2 separate regions of the Homo sapiens genome follow, and region 2 is linked to region 1. Evidence: fine-mapped expression QTL. Tissue or cell type: testis. Region 1 holds a variant in brackets; the other region holds the start of a gene. All regions are shown on one strand. Distances are from middle to middle.

Region 1 (2,762 bases):
CCAGAACAACAAGGGTGGTTTTGAAGAAAACTTACAATGAATAGGTGTTTCTACATAATGAGTTAACACATTAACTAGACATTTAGAGGCACTCTCAGACTCAAGGTTAGTCAGAAGTTACATAGTGGATTAGCATTTAAAATAAAGTCACTCTTGTCCCCATACCTATCCAGAAGCTGAACTGCCATGTTCTTCAGTTCTGGAGCATGCAACACTTTTTCTGAGTTGTGTAAAGTCAGCACTCTGTCCTGAAATAGCTGGTTTTCACCCAATTACCCCCTTTATAATAATCCTTTAGGAAAATATGGAGGTCGTGCTGGCAGTGCTTTATATGCTTGTTCACTCCCTATTATAGCGGGCCTTAGGCCCAGTTCTTTCTAGACACGTAGACTTCATCAAGCTGAGAAAAATCAGGCCCTATAGCTCGCTAACATACTCTCCTGGGCCCAAGGGGCCCAAGGTCTTCCAGGCTTGCACCATTGACATGTGGAGAAAAGGAAGCTGTGGGTGAGCCAAGCCCCTCATCAGGGGAGAATTACTCAAAGCTACTCCTCCTTTACAACTCCTAACCTAGTGATGAATTAGTAATATTGTGTTGGCTGAGCGATTCTCAAAGCTCCTCCTAACTTAATGAATTAATAATACCGTTTTAGATGCAAATGGCAGCTTGTTATCTTCCTAGGCTGTTGGCTCCAGTCTGATTTTCCTATTGAATAATTACTAGTAGAACCTTGTCATCTACAAATATAACACTGGCCAAGTTAAACGTGCATGGCTTATATTTTTAAATCTGCTCAGGCATGATTTGGAAGCACGTGCTTTGAGCTTGGTAAGGAGGAATGGGCTCCCATAGGTAATGACAGACCAAAGGTGATTCCTTGGCATCCATTATCTCAAGTGCCTTGCTGTGGTCAGTGCTGCTGCACAGTCAACCATTCTTGTAGCGGGATGATATCGATTTATCTGTGAAAGATCACCCCGAAAAGGATGCCAGCTGCCATAGAAACAACAAGGAAATGGAGCATACCTAAGAAAGTCATGTTCTTAGCCAGCACACTGAAGTTTGGCATGAGTCTATCAGTGGAATGTGAACATTTGGCTACAGCTCAGCTTTACAAAGTTAATGGGTCCATTATATACTCTGCAGAGGAACAAAAATGTACACTTGGAATAGAGTCCAGCCCATTTACAAATTTCTCATTAAGTAACAGATAAAGATTTCATGAAATGGAAAGTGTGGTTAATGTGTGGCATGAGAATAAACATAAGAAACATGTAAGTAGTTCAGAATTTACATAATTCTAGAAATACTTTTAAGCAGAAATAAAAGCAAAGTAAGACGAATATGTTCTTGGAGGGCACAAATCTGTAAATACTGTGATTCTTTCATTTCCTTAGCATTTTCTCTAATGTTTTGCAGAGCGTTCTTTCTTAAATTAACGGCATTCACAACAGGACAAATATTTTAATTATCTCACTTGGTAACTTTCATTCCAAGATCTTTAAGTTTTATGCATGTTCTTTAACATTAATGCTGGCAATTCTATTAAAAATTACTTACTTTTTTTTTTTAGAGTTTACAATACTTTCAATTTATAGTAATAATTAATGTTAAAACAATAGGATATTACTCACAAAATCACACAAATAA[G/A]CTCCAATTACACAAACAATAGTGTGGTCACACAAAACGGACAAAACATGGCAGAGATTTCCTTTTACTTGCTAAAGTGGAAGTGTCATTTGGCAATAGAAAAACAAGAGAATTATAATTCACTTGCTTTGACAGTTTTAAAATTATGAGACATTTGATGAACTTTTTTAAATTAGGAGAATTAACCTTATTTCAAATTTTGTAAGTAAAGTAGGACTATTAATGTTCTAACTGCTAAACAATTTTAAATGTGCATGATTTAAATATGCTTAATATGTACCATACTATATAACCCCCACTCACAGTGCAATTCTGTTTTGGATCATTAGTAATATATCCTGAAATGGGAAGCAAGGGCCCAAAGTGCACAAAATGCCTATAGAATCTACACTTACTGTAGGGGTAGATGCTGGTACAACCCATTCCAGGGGTTGTTTTATGATTCCAGATTGTACATGCTATTGTCAAAGATTGAAATAACACACTTTCGGGGGAATCACTGTTCATAACTTAGTGAACAGCCTTCAGGGGTTTTCTCAGGACATGTAAGCATGCAAGCATTTTATTATGCAGCTTCTTCTGGAAAGGTAAGACTTTGGTTCAGCAGCAGGGAATTGGAGCAAGCAGACTACCTCTTTCCAAAATCACTACTGGTTTTCCTAATCACTGCTTAACTGTTTTGATTTAGATACGCATCTGGGCCCGGAAAGATGCAATTGCAAATGGAAGTGCAGACTTTGCTTTGAACATCACAGGTCCCATCTTCTCTTTTCTGGAGGATTTGTTTAATATCAGTTACTCTCTTCCAAAAACAGGTGAGGTAATCTTTTCCTTTCAGTGCATTTGGTTTCCTGTTATTTGGGCCCTTGGTTGAGGCCTCAAGATACACAGACAAACCCATAAGGATTCACCATCACCATTTAGCTGCTGGTTTGGAGTTAGCCTCCTGACCTATGCCTTATACCTTCTGAAACACACAGAGGCTCACCTGCTCTTTCTCTGTACAGAGCCATGTGCTCAGCAGCTGCTGAAGAGCTCTCAGACTTTTTAGGTCTCTCCTGGCTACTCAATGGCAGCCTCCCGTCCTCTAGACCCTACTTTCTCTTTTGAG
Region 2 (2,631 bases), 24 kb before region 1:
CTCATTGCAAGTGAGATACAGCCAAAGCAGTAGTAAAGCGAACACCGTTTTATAGCTGCTATGGAAAAATTATTATATTTTCGCTGTAACACACACACACACACACACACACACACACACACACGCGCGCGAGTCTCAAGACGGGATAGTTTAAAATCTTCAGCCTGCAGTGGGATCTAACTACCTTCCCTTCCGTCCCCAGTGCCTCCTGATGCTTGCAATCTCATTCCCAATTCACCAGCGTGCGTGAATGCAGACTCCAGATCCAGCGCAGACGCCAAGAATTCGCTCAGGGGCACCAGCTAAATAGCAAACAGATGCCATGTCAAACATGTGAAAGCCTCAGCGACTAGGGTACCGCCGGGAAAACCAGTTCCAGCCCAGGAATTTCTGGGTGGAAACACTGGCCGCCGAATTGTTTTATTCTCTTTGCTTGATTCGAGTCGGTTCTGAAAGCAGGTGTCCCCTCTCCCCCGGCTTCAGGAAGGGAAACCCCGGCCCCAGGCAGTTGCAGAGCTAAGAAAAACCATCCCGCCAGGCCCCTTCTTGTGGTAACGCGGTCCTAACCCTGCTCTGCCCCACAACCCCATTTCACCCGGGAGACGCAGACGCCAGGCTCCCTAGCACTTTGTCGCCTCTTCCTCCAGCCTGGCTTCCTGAGCTCTGGAAAAGTTCCGGGCCTCCGGACGTTGTTTCCATCTTCGCCTTCGCTGCCTGGGCCGCATGCCTCCTGGGCTTATTTAGGAAGCGAAGTTAGCGCCACACATTTGGCTCCAGAAATTTGTTCTGACGGCGCGGCCGACGCCCTGCAGGGTCATTTCTGAACGCATTCCCAAATATCCTGGTCCTCAAGCCCTTACCACCCCCTAGCACACGAAGCCCCAGCTGGCGGTGGAGCAGGTGTGTTGCTGGTAGCTCATCGCTGGCTTGGAGATAGAGGTGCTTGGTACCTGTCCCCTTTCCGACAACACCTGAAACCGTATCGGGGCACACCCCTCATCCAAATATCCACGTTTAAGGTGTCCGGATTCGTTTGGCTTGACCACCCCCTCCCCGCGCCAACCCTGGAGGCATCTTCCGTGGGGTCTGTCTCTTCGAACCCAAAGGGGTACGCGTCTGGGTGAGCCAGGTCCGCCTCTTCCCTGGCGCTGGCCGGGGGCGGGGGTGGGTAGGCTGGGACCTGTGTCTGATTAGCTGGGAGGGGGAAGCCATGGTCCCAACCGCTGTCTGCTGAGCTCCAGTCCGTCCAGGCTCTTCCAGGAGGAAGAGGCACGATACAAGAGAGGAGGGGCAGGGGTCGCAGCACTGAACACCCTGGCCGGGGTTTTGACAGCTGCCACAGTCTCTGAGCTCCAGCCTCGCGCCTGAACCCGGTCCCTGCCATGGGGCCCCCTTCCAGCTCAGGCTTCTATGTGAGCCGCGCAGTGGCCCTGCTGCTGGCTGGGCTGGTAGCCGCCCTCCTGCTGGCGCTGGCCGTACTCGCCGCCTTGTACGGCCACTGCGAGCGCGTCCCACCGTCGGAGCTGCCTGGACTCAGGGACTTGGAAGCCGAGTCTTCCCCTCCCCTCAGGCAGAAGCCGACGCCAACCCCGAAACCCAGCAGTGCACGCGAGCTAGCGGTGACGACCACCCCGAGCAACTGGCGACCCCCGGGGCCCTGGGACCAGCTACGCCTGCCGCCCTGGCTCGTGCCGCTGCACTACGATCTGGAGCTGTGGCCGCAGCTGAGGCCCGACGAGCTTCCGGCCGGGTCTTTGCCCTTCACTGGCCGCGTGAACATCACGGTGCGCTGCACGGTGGCCACCTCTCGACTGCTGCTGCATAGCCTCTTCCAGGACTGCGAGCGCGCCGAGGTGCGGGGACCCCTTTCCCCGGGCACTGGGAACGCCACAGTGGGCCGCGTGCCCGTGGACGACGTGTGGTTCGCGCTGGACACGGAATACATGGTGCTGGAGCTCAGTGAGCCCCTGAAACCTGGTAGCAGCTACGAGCTGCAGCTTAGCTTCTCGGGCCTGGTGAAGGAAGACCTCAGGGAGGGACTCTTCCTCAACGTCTACACCGACCAGGGCGAGCGCAGGTAAGGGCTGTACAGCCCGGGGCCCCTCTCGGCCCCCGCCCCTGCGTCCCGGTGCAGGCTGCGGGTCCAGCTGACTACCGTGTCCAGGTGCGCGTCTGCTGCCCTTTCCAAAGAATCCCCTTGCGACGTTTTCTTTTTTCTTTTTATTTATTTATTTTATTATACTTTAAGTTCTAGGGTACATGTGCACAACGTGCAGGTTTGTTACATATGTATACGTGTGCCATATTGGTGTGCTGCACCCATTAAGAAATATACCCATTAGGTATATCTCCCAATGCAAACTATCGCAAGGACAAAAAACCAAACAGCGCATGTTCTCACCCATAGGTAGGAATTGAACAATGAGAACACTTGGACACAGGAAGGGGAACATCACACACCGCGACGTTTTCTTTCAAAGCCAGACAGAGTGCGAGCGCCTCCTTTCTCCCTTTTCCTATAACCTTGCTCCGAATAAAGAGACGGCGGAGACCGCGGTCCTTCCTCTGGCCAGTTTTCAACCCTGTATCTGCTCATCCCGTTTGTTTCTATTGCTGCCCCTTTTTAGGTCG

Direction of the effects. Alleles are on the strand shown, and positions count from the first base shown. SD is a standard deviation of normalised expression in the study named.
With allele A in place of G in region 1, the expression in testis of the gene that starts at base 1,240 in region 2 is higher (moderate effect, 0.58 SD a copy in GTEx).

What was found. PIP is the estimated chance that this variant, and not a neighbour inherited with it, causes the effect.
Region 2: it holds the start of LVRN, and the variant in region 1 is fine-mapped to the expression of LVRN in testis (GTEx, PIP above 0.99).

The regions. Positions count from the first base shown.
Region 1 is chr5:115,985,474-115,988,235 of GRCh38, forward strand. It overlaps LVRN (laeverin), which reads left to right. Exons shown (of 20, transcript NM_173800.5): 4 at 2,340-2,466. Among named protein-coding and RNA genes, the nearest start is that of LVRN, 24 kb to the left of the region's middle. The variant G/A (reference allele first, on the strand shown) is at 1,652.
Region 2 is chr5:115,961,236-115,963,866 of GRCh38, forward strand. LVRN (laeverin) reads left to right here and starts at 1,240. Exons shown (of 20, transcript NM_173800.5): 1 at 1,240-2,077. The coding sequence starts at 1,383. RefSeq lists an enhancer at 1,462-1,721.